2 separate regions of the Homo sapiens genome follow, and region 2 is linked to region 1. A link means that fine-mapping ties the variant in region 1 to the expression of a gene that starts in the linked region. Tissue or cell type: nasal epithelium. Region 1 holds a variant in brackets; the other region holds the start of a gene. All regions are shown on one strand. Distances are from middle to middle.

Evidence for each region. PIP is the estimated chance that this variant, and not a neighbour inherited with it, causes the effect.
Region 2: TGFBR3 starts here. The variant in region 1 is fine-mapped to the expression of TGFBR3 in nasal epithelium (TOPMed, PIP 0.92).

What each region holds. Positions count from the first base shown.
Region 1 is chr1:91,608,026-91,616,132 of GRCh38, forward strand. No RefSeq gene overlaps it. Among named protein-coding and RNA genes, the nearest start is that of CDC7, 110 kb to the left of the region's middle. RefSeq lists enhancers at 3,215-3,716, 3,717-4,216. The variant G/A (reference allele first, on the strand shown) is at 3,515.
Region 2 is chr1:91,882,305-91,890,411 of GRCh38, forward strand. TGFBR3 (transforming growth factor beta receptor 3) reads right to left here and starts at 3,847. Exons shown (of 17, transcript NM_003243.5): 1 at 3,574-3,847. RefSeq lists enhancers at 2,655-3,418, 3,419-4,181 and silencers at 3,324-3,533, 3,544-3,623, 3,974-4,113.

The sequences.
Region 1 (8,107 bases):
AGTTTACATTCCCATCAGCAGTGTAGAAATGTTCCCTTTTCACCGCATCCACACCAACATCCATTATTTTTTTATTTATTGATTATGGCCATTCTTGCAGGAGTAAGGTGATATCATGTTGTGGTTTTGATTTGCATTTCCCTGATCATTAATGATGTTGAACATTTTTTCATATGTTTGTTGGCCATTTGTATATCTTCTTTTGAGAATTGTCTATTCATGTCCTTAGCCCACTTTTGATAGGACTGTTTGTTTTTCTCTTGCTCATTTGTTTGAGCTCTTTTTAGATTCTGGATATTAGTCCTTTGTCAGATGTATAGATTGTGAAGATTTTCTCCCACTCTGTGGGTTGTCTGTTTACTCTGATGACTGTTCCTTTTGCTGTGCAAAAGTTCTTCAGTTTAATTAAGTCCTAGCTATTTATCTTTGTTTTTGTTGCATTTGCTTTTGGGTTCTTGGTCATGAAATCTTTGCCTAGGCCAATGTCTAGAAGGGTTTGTCCAATGTTATCTTAGAGAATTTTTATAATTTCAGGCTTTAGATTTAAGTCCTTGATCCATCTTGAGTTGATTTTTGTATAAGGTGAGAGATGAGGATCCAGTTTCATTATCCTGTATGTGGCTAGCCAATTATCCCAGCACCATTTGTTGAACAGGCAGTCTTTTCCGCACTTTATGTTTTTGTTTGCCAAGCCTGATTTTTAATGACTACAGATTATTCCATTTATGGGTACACCACAATTTATCTAATCATTCTCTTGTGGGTAGACATTTAGGTTACTTATGATTTATTAATATAATAAAAATATACATGTATTGTGTATCAAAGTTAGACACATATATATGAAAGATGAGCAGCTTCTCAAAAGCTGTGTATTTGTTTCCAAAGGCTGGTGCCCTGCAGTGGCCACACGAGGACCTTCAGAATGTACACATAGTGACTAATGGTAACACTGGAAATCATCAAACTGCCAGGGTCCTGCCAGCACTCAGCATTTGCTCTTCCACATGAGAAAGTCCCTACAGGGAATGGGAGTTAATGTCAGCATGTCAGTACATACAGTCTGTTCTCAGTGAATCTGGAAGCTTGTCTTCCTAGATGCCTATGGCTGAGTCGCTGAAAAGATTTTTGACTCAGGGCTTCAGAAGATACCTCAGTGCTAAATCACCCAGAGCAGCGTTTCAGATTCAGAAGCTGCGTCACCTGTGGGCAGAACAGAACTCAGCTACGGACTTAAAGTTCCAGAGCTCAGTAGCATCAAAGCACAAGGGACAGAGACCCAAAGGATCCATGAATGGGGACTGAGACCCGAAGGATCCATGAATGAGGGCTGAGCCATGTGGTGTGTACACACCCACAACATGTGAGTGAGAGCTGCGCCCACAATCTCCTGTAGGTCAGCCTCCAGGCCATGCAGACAGCCCCATACCCTAAATCCCATGTACGCCATCTACGTTTCTTCTCTCTACTTTGTTTAATAAATCAAAAATTGGCTAAAGGGAGGAGGTGGTCAAGGATGCCATGACCCACTAAACAGTCTAAACAGAACGCAGCAATGTCACTACACTAGAGCTGGAAATGGGGTAGCAGAATGCCAGCTCCCATAGCAAACCCCAGGATGAAAGTGAAAGCTGGGGTGAAAAGGCCTAGAACTTGCTTCCAGAGCACAGGTGACAGAATCCCTGAACGTGAAACATTCTTCTCTCGGGGATGATGACTTAGCACTGAGGTATCTTCTGGAGCCCTGAGTCACTCAGCTCCAGGAATGATGGGTGTGGACCAGACTGGAAATTCACTGGACCGTTTTCAGTGTAACTTGGACCCAACCTAAGCATCTGGGGGACCTGGAAGAGACCCATGTCATCTGGTCTAGGCCCCAGTTCCAGGCAAATGGTAGAAAAGCTTTTCGTTATGGGATGACTCTGATCCTGAGCTGACAGGAGAATCCCATAGAATTGAGACGCTCCAGCACCACCTTGGATTTTGCCCCACTGTCTGGTTCTGTGAAAGAGCGAAAAAAGTCAGGATGAATGAACCAGTGCATGAACAAATACATCATAGCCTTCCTTCCTCCGCAAAGGTAGAATCTTGGCAGTAGCCATCTGCCAGGGCAAGGAATGGCCTGAGAGGGTTAGGGGAGAGGCAGAGATGTCTAGGAAGTCATGAGGCTGCCACACAGTAGGAAGAGGAAGGCCTTCCATCTGCGGCTCCAGCCACAATTCAGGAGATCCCTGAGCTCCACCCATGGAAGCTTGGACAAGCCACATCTCTGTTCCTAATATGTTCCTACATATGTTCTCTAATCTCTAATATGGGAAGAATAGTCACAGCTTCCCTGCTTCCTCTGTGAGATAACACAGTCTTAACTGTTTTCACTGAAAAGTTGTCAGTGCACCCACAACTCCACCCTCCCTACTGACTCTGGGGCTGGCGAGCAGCCTTTCCCAATGTAATTATGGTTTCAGAACTTGATTTGATCCGTGTAATAAGCAAAACCATGTAATGAAAAGCCATGTTAAATGGAAATCCCATCCGAGTATTTTTGTGCTGGATCTTAGGAAGAACTCAAAGTGGGACACGTGAGGAGAGGACTGTGCTGATGAGAGCAAAGGAGAGAGCTGGGGTCTTGGAATAGGAAAAGGCCCATAGGTACTAGGAAGCTAATGAGTAACTAGCCATGGGCTACTGTGGTAAGAAGGGCAAGTATTTTGGATAAAACATGGAAGGGCTTCTTAACAGAAAAGGTTTGCTGCTACCAGCTGACCATACTATAAATCTTGCATTAATGCATTCACTTACTCATAAGTATTTAACATGCCCACCCCACTACTCTTGCTCAGGGACTGGGAGAGGAGAAGTACAAAGCTGTACTTTGAAAGTACCCTAGAAAGGGAGTTTGAAGGACTTGGCCACGATCTTACAGGCCTTATATTGGACAGACAATGCAGCCTGCTAGGGGTAGCGCACACAGCCAGGCTGCCTGGGCCCAGATCTGCCGTTTATGAGCTCTGCAACCTTGGGCAAGTTGCTTAATCATGCTGCGCTTCAGTTTCCTCACTTAGAAAGTAGAGATAACAATAGTCATTTTTTCATTAGGCTGTCGTGGGGAATAAACGATTTAATACATGAAAAGTATTTATAATAGAACAGAGCCTGCCACATCATATGTGCCCAATAATGTTAGCAATTATTGTTCCCTAGAAAGGGAGTTTTCAAGGAGGTGGCATCATCATCCAACATCAGCAGATTATTCCATGCATCGCAAAGTCAAATTTAACATTTTGCTTTTTTCTATTATATATAATAAACTTATTTGCTCACTTCTAACATTTGTCATTTTCAGCCTTCATTTTACCAGCACAGACTCTAGCTCTCGGTATTTGGGCCTTAAGATCTTCACAAACAAACAAATCTTTCTGAAATAGAAAAAAAAAAAAACAGACCCAAAAATCTAACACTATAGTGACCTCCTACTAGGCTTTAAGTTTAAACGGATTAGGGCAGGAAGTTTTAC[G/A]TTCCTGTCGTATTTGCTGAAGGTGTATGGCAGGGTGCGGCGCCTGTTGCAGGATTCCAGCAGGGCCTGCCCTGGCTCCCCAGGGCTTTGCAAGGAAGCTGGAGAAGTCCGCCACCTCGCTGTCACTGCACATCAGTAGACCCCTATCCCCACCCGCAAACTCAGGGCACCCACAGTCTCTCCAAGGACTGCAGTTTTGTCGCCAGATTGTGGGAACATCTGTCTTGAATCTAAAGAGACAAAACAGATGGGCTTGGTTTCGGAGTTCCGCCCACTCCCCAGTGTGCTGTTGTTAGTGACCACAGGAGTGGGAGCAGTCCAGAGAGGTTCAGCCCAGGAACTCATTAAACTAAGCTCCTCCGAAAGGCACCTTCCAGTGTGGATGGGGGCAAGGAGGGAGGAGGGCAACTGGGGCCCAGCAGAACTCCTTCCTCCCAGAGCCCTTACAAAGGCAAGGGAGGTCGGCCTGGGCCAAGCTCCCCGCCCACCCTCCCAGCTTTGCACCCCCTTCTCAGCCAGACCCACTGCCCTCTCACAATGCAGAAATGAAGATGGAAGGAAACAGGGAACATGCAACCGCCAGACTCCCTCTGGAGCCCAAGTAACTGTTCCACAGTGTGCATAAAGGGGCCAAGCTGGTGCTCCTCCGGCTTGATGGAGTTGGTCAGTAGAAACTAGGATGTCCCAACCTTGTGATCCGTGGTCCATGCAGCACATTGTAGAGACATTGGTTGACTTTTCCATGAGTTAAACCCTGTCTGGGGATGGCATCCCAGACCCAGTCCGGAATGAAGGACATGACTGAGTAATAAGGGGACTGTGTGCTTAACAGAAGACATGACTGAGTAATAAGGGGGCTGTGTGGTTAATAGAAGCCCTGTGTTGCCGAATCAGGCTCACACTGGAGCCATGCAGCACCTCACAAGGGGAGCTGAACTCCGACAAGCACCACCGCCCTGATGTGCAACTGTGTTGAACAGCCTGGCCTAGAGCAAAGTCACCAGGATCACCAAGTAAAGCTTCCCTTATTTGAAAAACTCACATATAAATATTATGACCTAGTCTGCTCACCCTCATATTTTAGAATAATATTAGGATAACAATAATAGCTGCCACTTGGGGGCTTACTATATGTCAGATAATATACCAGCCATTTTTCCAATATTATCTCATTTAGTATTCATGAAAATTCTAGCGTTTTTTTAATCCCATTGTTCAGATGGTAAAATTGAGAATTGAAGAAACTAAGTAATTTCCCCAAGATGACATATCTGGTAAAGGGCAGAGACAGGATTTTAAACCAGATCTGTTTGATGTCAAAACTCACATTCTCTCTCCCCACAAAACCCTCCACGTGCTGCACAGTGACACAGTTCAGACAAGGACTAAATTCTATGGAAATAGTGAAAATACCTGGATTTCTAAACTCTTGGCTAAATAAAGGGCTTGTCTCTAGTTCCCTCGTGAAAAGTTGAGGCCAGGTGCAACGGCTCACACCTGTAATCCCAGCACTTTGGGAGCGGAAGGCAGGCGGATGGCTTGAGCCCAGGAGTTTAAGACCAGCCTGAGCAACATAGTGAGACCCCGCCTCTGCGAAAAATAAAAAATTAGCTGGGCCTGGTGGCACACACTGGTAGTCCCAGCTACTCAGAAGGCTGAGGTAGGAGGATCACTTGAGCATGGAAGATCAAGTTTGCAGTGAGCCATGATGATGCCACTGCACTCCAGTCTTGACAACAGAGCAAGATCATCTAAAAAAAAAAAAAAACAGACAAAAAAAGAGGCCAGACATGGTGGCTCACACCTGTAATCCCAGCACTTTGGGAGGCCAAGGCAGGAGGATCACTTGAGGTCAGGAGTTTGAGACCAGCCTGGCCAACGTGGTGAAACAACATCTCTACCAAAAATACAAAAAAATTAGCCCAGTATGGTGGCATGCACCTGTAATCCCAGGTACTCAGGAGGCTGAGGCAGAAGAATCACTTGAACCCATGAGGCGGAGGTTGCAATGAGCCAAGATGGCACCACTGCACTCAGCCCGGGCAACAAGAGTGAAACTCCATTTCCAAAGAAAAAAAAAAAAGAAAGTTGAAGTAAGGAGGCCCAAAACCTTAGTCTCAGATCTATCCTTCTAAATACTAGGAGTCTTCTGGGTGATGCGGATGAAATCACAGGCTGAGATACAGATAGAATTCCAACTCTTCAGTGCCTCATACCAGCTTGGAGCCACATGCTGCTCTGTCACTCCCATCCCCCAGGGACCAGCCTTCCCAAAGGGTGTGGTCATTGTTTAGAATGTGCCACTCCTCTGGGTGTAGGTTTTCCCCTCAAATCACTGCAAATACTGCTGAAAGAAAATGTGGCCTTTACCTCCCATCAGTGAGGTGATTTAAACTCTCACTCTCAGACCTTAGCTTCCTCTGCCTTGGAGGATTTGATCAAGTTGAGTGGAAAGAATAGCAAGTATTTTTACAGTACTTTACATGGCTTTGCATGCAAATTGCTGGGTTTTTTTTTAATAGATCAAAAGCAGTCAAACATCAGCAACTTCATATGATTCTTTACCTTATGTGAAGATTGTTGACTGACTCAATCAATTACCAGTTAATCCAGCCAGCCAGCTAACTGGGGAAACAAAACTATTATAACTCATGAAGTAATTATAGGACTAAATGATGTGGTGATGGCATTTTACAAAGCAATATTTCCAAGTGTTATCTTGCTTAATCTTCACATCTGCCCCACTGAGGGGCTCTGTGTCATCTCCACATTACTAAATTCACTGGGCTTCTATGTGGCAGAACCAGGTGAGTCCTTCAAAATACTTCAAATTCTCCAAGGCAGCTCAGGCTGCCCCTTACCAGTCGCCACGGTGCTTAGATGGGCAGAGAGGAAGGGAGCAGCATACGCACAGGGTCAGATGACACTCAGCCTCATCGAGGATGCAGAGAGAAAATAACTCAATGGAGAGAAGCAAGCATTAGGGGGGTTAAATGACCAGGTTGGTGGGGGGAATTAAATTATAGACGGTCTTAAAAAACAGGCAGGGGAGGTTTTTCTGTTTTTGTTTTCGTTTTGTTTTGTTTTGTTTTGTTTTGTTTTAAAGACAGGATCGCACTCTGTTGCCCAGGCTGGAGTACAGTGGCACCAACATAGCTCACTGTAACTTCAAACTCCAGGACTCAAGCGATCCTACCGCTTCAGCTTCCTGAGAAGCTGGGACTACAGGCGCATGCCACCACGTCTGACTAATTTTTGTTTTTATTTTTTGTGGAGATGGGGTCTCAAACTCCTGTCCTCAAGCAATCCTCCCATCTTAGAGTTTGCCTTTTAAAGTCATCATCCTTAGAACTGGAAGAAACTAAAAGAGATGTCCTGTTCTAGCCCACAGATTTCACACAGGAAAGAGCTACCTTCTTCATTTTACAAAATAAACAACTGAGGCTCACAGATTTGGTTAGATGTAGAGGGTAGGCTAGAATGATGATTCCTCACTCCCTTGTCTGTTACTTTTTTTTTTTTTTGAGACGGAATCTCACTCTATCGCCAGGCTGGAGTGCTGTGGTGCAATCTTGGCTCACTGCAACCTCCGACTCCCTGGTTCAAGTGATTCTCCTGCCTCAGCTTCCCGAGTAGCTGGGATTTCAGGCATGTGCCACCACACCTAGCTAATTTTTGTATTTTTAGTAGAGGCGGGGTTTCACCATGTTGGCCAGGCTGGTCTCAATCTCCCAACCTCATGATCCGCCCGCCTCGGCCTCCCAAAGTGCTGGGATTACAGGCGTGAGCCACTGTGCCCGGCCTGTCTGTTGCTTATTATAGCTCATCGCATTGACCTAGACTTACTCTTAAGATTAAAAAATTACTGTCTTGCCTAACAAGCTGTCTTATGTATAGGCTGTTACTATTTAAAACTATTTCACATTTCCAAAGTGGCAACAAAGATTGTAGGTTCTTAAGGAGAATTTCTTGACAGTGATATAATACAAGTGTTCTAGAAAGATTAGTCTGTCAAAAGCATTCATATAGATCAGAGAAGAGGAAGAGTGGAGTCAGGAAAATAAATAAATTAGTGAGGCTCCAGAAATGCACTGGATATGTGGCCTAGAAGCAATTTCTCTCTATTTTTTTTTTATTTTTTATTTTTGAGACAGGGCCTCACTCTGTCACCCGGGGCCTCACTCTATCACCCAGGCTGGAGTGCAGTGGTGTGATAATAGCTTACTGCAGCCTCAACCTTCTGGGCTTAGGTGATCCTCCCACCTCAGCCACCTGAATAGCTGGGACCACAGGCACGCACCACACACCTGGCTAATTTCTAAATTATTTGTAGAGACGAGATCTCGCTGTTGCCCAGGGCTGCTCTCTGACTCCTGGGCTCAAGCAGTTCTCCTGCCTCGGCCTCCCATAGTGCTGGGGTTATAGGCGTGAGCCAACACACCTGGCCAATTATTTTTTTCTTTTTTTTTTTTTTTGAGACAGGGTCTCACTCTGTCGCCCAGGCTGGAGTGCAGTGGTGTGATCACTGCTCACTGCAACCTCTGCCTCCTGGGCTCAGGTGATCCTCCCACCTCAGCCTCCTAAGTAGCTGGG
Region 2 (8,107 bases), 270 kb after region 1:
TGTTGTATTTTCTGTAGAGATCAGGTTTCGCCATGTTGGCCAGGCTGGTCTCGAACTCCTGACCTCAAGTGATCCACCTGCCTCGGCCTCCCAACATGCTGGGATTACAGGCGTGAGCCACCACACCCAGCCAAAAACTTTTTTTAAAAGTCAAGTTTGGCCAGGCACCGTGGCTCACGCCTGTAATCCCAGCACTTTGGGAGGCTGAGGTAGGCGGATCACAAGGTCAGGAGATCGAGACCTTCCTGGCTAACACGGTGAAACCCCGTCTCTACTAAAAATACAAAAAAATTAGCCGGGCATGGTGGCGAGTGCCTGTAGTTACAGCTGCTGGGGAGGCTGAGGCAGGAGAATGGCGTGAACCTGGGAGGTGGAGCTTGCAGTGAGCTGAGATTGCACCACTGCACTCCCGCCCGGGCGACAGAGCGAGAGACTCCATCTCAAAAAATAAATAAATAAATAGATAAATGTCAAGTGTGATTTTTTCAAGCATATTCTTATTGTTTATGTTTACAAGTATGAGTATTCATAGACACATCACACTTATACTAGTATCAAATATGATACATCTGAACTACTACTATACTTGAATATTAACGTAAGCCTCTGAGGAATTCACAGTAATAGAACTGCTGTTATTTAGGATTACTGATCCCCTATTGTCTTGCACTTAGAAGATGTTAATGAAAGATGATGACAGGATTGTGAACACACCAACCTCCCTGAGAACAAATTCATTATATTCAGTTTTCTACAAAACACAAATGAGGATCATTACAAAAGGATTCACAACAAATTCCTCTGGATTTCCATTTCTCCCAGGTAAGTTGAAATATTATTCAAACCACACAAAATTAGTTTACATACAAACTTCACTTTTTAAAGAGATGGGGGTCTCACTATGTTACCCAGGCTGGTCTCGAACTCCTTGGCCAAGTGATCCTCCTACCTCAGCCTCCCAAAGTGTTGGAATTACAGGTGTGAGCCACTGTGCCTGGCCTACACACCACTTAAGGAAACAAATTGAAAAAAAACTATATGTGTGTTTATCTATCTGTCCAGCCACCATGGAGTTCTTGACATATATTCAACATACAGGCCCTGTCCTCAAGGTCATTCTTAATCAGTTCAAATTAAATCTAGTCCTCCATTATAAACTCCAAAAGCAACTTAGTTATTTTGCTAGATATTTTGCCCTCCCCTTTCAAACTATATGTTTAATACTCTAAAAACGGGTTTATGCGCCTTATAGATATCAACAGTGTGTTATGCTCCCCCTATTGACTAATATTCAAAATAACAATGAACTCCCCACGGGTTGCCTTTGAAGTGCTGGGATTCAAAACTATGTTGGTGATTTTTATATTTAAAAACATGAGCTGAATCAACAGTTGTTAGGCAAAGCTGCCGTGTAACGGTCAGATTCCATCAAAACAGGAAAAATTAAAGTTGACAAATGTCAAACTGAAGGGCCAAAAAAAAAAAACGCTCAAGCCTTGAAACACTAAACAATGCAGAAATAAAGCCAAAAGCAAAGAACAGCAAGAAATAGAGCAACATCCTTTAACTGACACAATGGCATGAAATCAATTTCATGTTAATAGCCCTTAAGGGGGTAAGAATTATTTCCCTGCCTCCTGTGCCAACCCCAAGCTGTTTCCTAAGGAAGCCAAGTAATGGTGATCAACAATGTCTGGAGAATTAATAAAAGAAATTAAGAATAAAGATCCATGTTGGCCAGGCGTGGTGGCTCACACCTGTAATCCCAGCACTTTGGGAGGCCGAGGCAGGTGGATCACGAGGTCAAGAAATCGAGACCATCCTGGCCAACATGGTGAAACGCCGTCTCTACTAAAAATACAAAAGTTAGCTGGGCGTGGTAGCGCGCGCCTGTAGTCCCAGCTACTCTGGAGGCTGAGTCAGGAGAAACTCTTGAACCCGGGAGGTGGAGGTTGCAGTGAGCCGAGATCGCACCACTGCACTGCAGCCTGGGGACAGAGCGAGACTCTGTCACCAAAAAAAAAAAAAAATTTCCATGTTAATTAATACAAGTCAGAGTTCTATTTATAATTATTTGGGGCCAGTTTCAGAGGAACTTTAATTGGGCACCCTCATAAGTATGTAAAATCGCCTAAATTCATCACAGATACCTTATGTGTGTTTCAAGAGATATGCGTTCAGCTCAAATAGAAAGCTGAAAGATGGGAGAAGATGCATGGACTATGCACACAAATCTATGTACACACAAATCGGCCTGCACTTGCCGCTCTCCGCTGAGGAAGGAAGGTAGCTTTGGAGTCAGAACTAACAGAAAGTTATGTATGATCTTGGACAAGTAACTTAACCTCTAGTGTCTTATCTGTAAAATAGGGTTATTAATAGTGCTTTTCCCATAGAGATGCTGTGAGGATTAAGTGCACACAGTATGGGCTTAGAAAACGTTAGCTGTTATTATTATCCAAAAGAAACAACTGAGTTCACACTGAAGTAACTGTTTGCACTCTGCATTCAGGAAGAAGAAACGGTCTTGACGTGTGTTTTTACTACCTGTGGAGACTTCTCCCAAACCGCTCACTTCTTCGGAAGGACATAAAACTCAGAATACGCCTGGTTCCCCAGCACAGCCTGTCACTCCTACTATCCTCTGCCCTCGCCGCTCCTATCCTGCCACCGCAGGGCTAGCGGCAAGCAGCGCTAACCTCCGTGCGGTGCTTACTCGGTGCCAAGCACTGTTGTAGCACCTCACACACATTAAATCATTAGATGCTCACAGCAACTTTACGGGGCAAGTACTACTATCCTCACTTCACAGCTAGGGAAATGGAACGGTTTTCTTCTTCCAGCTTTTCGTGAGGACACCAAATCCACTAAGTTCTACTTTGCCAAGGTAATTCATGCTTGACACGTCGGCTCCTGACACTATGCGATTCTGCAAAGCGGGGCAAATGCCCTAATAAGATCAAGTCTGCAAGCAGATTCTTCTAGCGACAGTCCAAGATTTCCAAGTTTGTCCTAACCAAATGAATACAAGAAGAGAGCCTTCAAAATAAACCGGGGCGGGGGGGGGCCGAGCTGCAGCTTGCGGCTCAGCCCGCAAGGCACCCTGAGGGCGCGGCCAGCGGGGAACGCAAACCGCGTCCGTGCACGAGTCCGGGAGCCACAGCCTGGGCCACGGCAATTGACTGCGAACCCACAACAAACCATTCCCACCGAAGCTGTCACGCGCCCGGAGGGAAGTGGCCGCCGCGCCCCGCAGGGGTCAGAAGGACCCGCGGAGAGGAAGAGTGAGGGCGGGCGTGGAGAATTCCTCCCCAGCACTGCGCATCGCCGGGGGCACTGCCTGCCCCGTGCGGCCGCTGCCCACGCACCGCTGGCCACCGGTGCCTGCTCCCCGGAGGGTAAACACCGCCCCACCAGCGCCTCCCTCCCAAGGCCGGAGGTCCTGGCGGCTGGAGCGACCCTGGCCGGTAAGTAGGCACTGGCAGCCCGCGCCGCGCCGACGGGCACCCGCGCAGCCTGCAGAGCCCACAGCCCGGGCGGGCTGCAGCGCCGCGGGGCTGGGCCGGCACGTACCTCGGAGGCGGTGTGTCCAGCGGAGATCCACCCGCAGCAAGTTGGAGGAAAGCGGCGGCAAGTTTCCCCGCCCAGCGCTCGGCGGCGGCGAGCTCCGGCAGCTGCTGCGCCGCGGCAAAACTACGCCATCCGGACCCGCTGGGGACTCTCACCTCCTGCAGGGAGCTCCGGGAATCGCGCAGGGAAAGTGGCCGGGGCGCGAGAGCCGCCGACTGCCCTCCTTCACTCGCTGGGAAGAGGAAAGTGCCGCTCGGCGTCCCCGAAACCCTCGATTACCCCCATCAGGCCGACCCGGCGCACTCGCCCTCCCTCGCACACACGCGGGCGGGGACGGGCAGGACGCCACAGCAATCAGCGCGCGGGGGGAAGGGCGCTCCTCCGCCGGCCCCACCGGGGGCTCTCGGCCGCCCAGAAACTCCTCCTCCCGCCTCCCGCCTCCCGCCTCCTCTCTCCTCCCCCTTTGCCTCCGCGGCTGATGGATGAGCCCCGAATGCTGCTCGAGCCTGTGCTTCCCTTCGGGACGAGGAGGCCGAGAGAGAAGGGGCTAGGGGCGCGGCCGGGCTCAGCGTGCCCGGGTTGGGGCGGCCCCTGTCCTGGGGGAAGCGCGAGGGAGACGTGGGCACGAGCTGCGGGGACTCGCTCCCTCAAACGAGGTCCTTTGAACTTTCCAGGGCTCCCTGGAAGAGTTGGATTTTCATTTGGTTCCTTGGTCTTTATATAAAAGTTCTGAAACCTCAGATAATCTGATCACAGCCTCTTGCCCTCTCCCCAGCAGAGCTCCCCCATGCACACATTCATTCTGTCCCTGTGCTTTTTCCCAACCTCCGGTCCCGCTTGTTGTCACGCTCTGATGGTGGGCGCCGGCGGAGTCTTGCCTCTTCCCCTCCAGCAGCTGAGACTGCATTACCCAGCCGTTCCCCCTGCTAGCTAAATAAATTAATACAAATAATGGAGCTAGGTCAGCATTACCGGCGTTACCCGGAGGTGGGCGCGATATGAACGACAGTCTCGGCGGGGCAACGTCCTAAGTACCTGTGCCTGTGCGACGTCCTAAGTACCTGTGCCTGTGAAGTACACGCTGCAGAAGTTGAACTGCTGGCACCAGAACACCACTCTGATACTCTTGCTTACACCCAGTTTTTCTTATTAAAAAGTATACTTAAGTAACAGGACATTGTTTTACAAACAGGCAGGTGAAATGACCGTGGACTGACAGGTTTCAAAGACCAGACTTCCAGTCCTGACTACTGTGCGACCTTCCACAAATGGCTAACGGCTAATACCCGTCAAGGCTCAGTTCAAATGAAGGGCTTGGCCTAGAAGGCTTCTTCCAGTTCTAAAGGGCTATGGACCTATGCCTTTTTTTTTTTTTTTTTTTTTTTTTTTGAGATGGAGTCTCGCCCTGTCGCCCAGGCTGGAGTGCAGTGGCACAATCTCAATCTCAGCTCGCTACAACCTCCGCTTCTCAGGCTCAAGCGATTCTCCCACCTCAGCCTCCTGAGTAGCTGGGATTACTGACAAATGCCACCACGCCCAGCTAACTTTTTGTATTTTTTGTAGAGGGGGTTGGCAGGGCGGGGGTCTCACTTAGTTGCCCAGGCTGGTCTCAAACTCCTGAGCTCAAGAGATTCGCCTGCCTTGGCCTCCCAAAGTGCTGGGATTAGAGGCGTTAGCCGCTGCACCTGGCTCAATCCTAGGCTTTTAATATGTTGGAGAGTAGAATGAGGAGGCTTCTTATGACATGTTATTTGGAAAGTTATTGAGAGAACAGGAAATATTTCTCGTCCTCTTCCTCTTGTACCTATAGGCAGAGAATCCACCCAATTGCAGAATTGGAGATTCATTCACAAAGGTCAAATGTCATCAGTCACCTGAATTACTGCAAAAATCTCCTCACTGAACCATTTTTTTCCTTACCAATATTCATTGAGCACTGACTATGGGAGAGCCCTGAGTCAGGCATTGGGAATACAAGTAGGCATAATATTCTGAAGGAATAAACAGTCCAGATGGAGCTAGCCTCTGCTTTTATAAAGTCTAAGTTTAAGGCCTTAAGATTTCTCCTAGACTCAAATTAAACAGTATTTGATATGGTTTGGCTGTGTCCCCACCCAAATCTCATCTCGAATTGTAAGTCCCACAATCCCCATGTGTCCTAGGAGGAACCCAATGGGAGGTAATTGAATCTTGGGGATGAGTTTTTCCTGTGCTGTTCTCATGATAGTGAATAAGTCTCACGAGATCTGATGGCTTTAAAAACAGGAGTCTCCGTGTACCAGCTCTCTCTGCCTGCTGCCATCCACGTGATATGTGACTTGCTCCTCCTTACCTTCTGCCATGATTGTGAGGTCTCCCCAGCCATGTGGAACTGTAAGTCCAATAAACCTTTCCTTTGTAAATTGCCCAGTCTCGGGTATGTCTTTATCAGCAGCATGAAAACAGACTAATACAGTATTTATGCCTTGTTAACAAGTTTTAGTTTCAAGTACAGATGTGAACACTTGAACTAGGTGTGAATATTTAATCCCACATTTAAATGCATCGGCCAGGTGAGGTGGCTCATGCCTATAATCTCAGCAATTTGGGAAGCCGAGGTGGGTGGATCACTTGAGGTCAGGAGTTCTAGACCAGCCTGACCAACATGGTGAAACCCCATCTCAACTAAAATACAAAAATTAGCCAGGCATGGTGGCGGGCACCTGTAATCCCAGCTACTTGGGAGGCTGAGGCAAGAGAATCGTTTGAACCCAGGAGGCAGAGGTTGCAGTGAGCTGAGATGGTGCCATTGCACTCTAGCCTGGACAAGAGCAACACTCTGTCTCAAAAAAATAAAATTAAATTAAATGTATCAATCATGTTAAGGCCTTCTAAATAAAATGGCCTGGTAGATAATTTAGGAGTGTCTTGTCTTTAAAGAGTGATGAAGTGACTGGTCCCCGTAGAGCCAGATTCACAACAGTAACCATCAACATCTGAGCCAGCGTGGGTACTGAATTCTTTTTTGTTTGTTTGTTTTTGTTTTGAGACAGAGTCTCGCTCTGCTGCCGAGGCTGGAGTGCAGTGGCGCAATCTCAGCTCACTGCAACCTCTGCCTCCTGGGCTCAAGCAATTCTCCTGCCTCAGCCTCCTGAGTAGCTGGGATTGACAAGCACGCACCACCATGCCTGGCTAATTTTTGTATTTTTAGTAGAGACGGGGTTTCATACCATGTTGGCCAGGCTGCTCTCGAACTCCTGACCTCAAGTGATCCACCCGCCTTGGCCTCCCAAACTGCTGAGATTACAGGCATGAGCCACTGCGCCTGGCCATGGGTACTAAATTCTATACATATAAACACATTTACTTCTCACAGCCCTCTAAGAATATGTATAAATGAGGCCGATATACATGCCTTTATACAAACTGAGATCTTGTCCACGATTCAATCTCACATCCACCGACCTCAAAACCTGTCCACGATTCAATCTCACATCCACCGACCTCAAAACCTAAGTCCTTAACCACCAGGTTCTTCTACCTGTCATCAGAAGCTTTATAGACTGGCAAAATAAAAGGGCTCTTTTTTTTAATTCTGAGCTATTTAGTTTCAGTAGATGATATGGAAAAACACAAGAAATTACATCAGTATTTACAAAATTAACAATGTCTACAGAGATGTTTTCTCTTTAAATCTTTACAATATGATATTAAAAGCAGAAATCCAGATACCTCAAGCATAGACGAAAGGTTTAAAATAAACTTGAATTTTTGGTTCCTGAGCAAAGCTCTATAAAAAAGGGTTCCCCTACCTCTTTTCTTTCTTTCTTTCTTTTTTGAGACGGAGTTTCCCTCTTGTTGCCCAGACTAGAGTGCAGCAGCGCGATCTCAGCTCACTGCAACCCCCACCCCCACCTCCCAGGTTCAAGTGATTCTCATGCCTCAGCCTCTCAAGTAGCTGGGATTACCAGCACCCACCACCATGCCTGGTTGATATTTGTATTTTCAGTAGAGACAGGGTTTTGCCATAACTCCTGACCTCAAGTGATCCACCCACCTTGGCCTCCCACAGTGTTGGGATTACAGGCGTGAGCTGCCGTGCCCAGTTGCCCAACCTCTTATTAATGGCAATATTAACTGATTTCTAAGGGAATGGATGCTCCCTTTCACTAATTTCTCATGGAGAACTGCATTCAAGCTACAGTATTTGTTACTGTAAGATACCAGCTTTCTTTTGGTCCAAAGTGGTTTCTTGGTCATTTGTTTGGAATTGTTTCAAACAGGATTGTAAGCAGGGGGGTGAAATTGAGGTGCATTACTTGCATTAAAAATGTTTGCCAGCAGAGTTTCAGTGATTTACTGAGGCTGTTTTTCATACAAGGAACCACCCCTCCTGTAGGTGTGGACTCACATGTTGACAGTGACTCAGATTTAGTGGCATGTCTCCAGATTCTGTTGATTAGCAGTTCACAGTCTGCTAATCAGACTTTCTTTAATCAGATAAAGTCTAAAAGACTTTATCATTAGAAAAATCATTTGGTTGTTTCTCTATAATCTT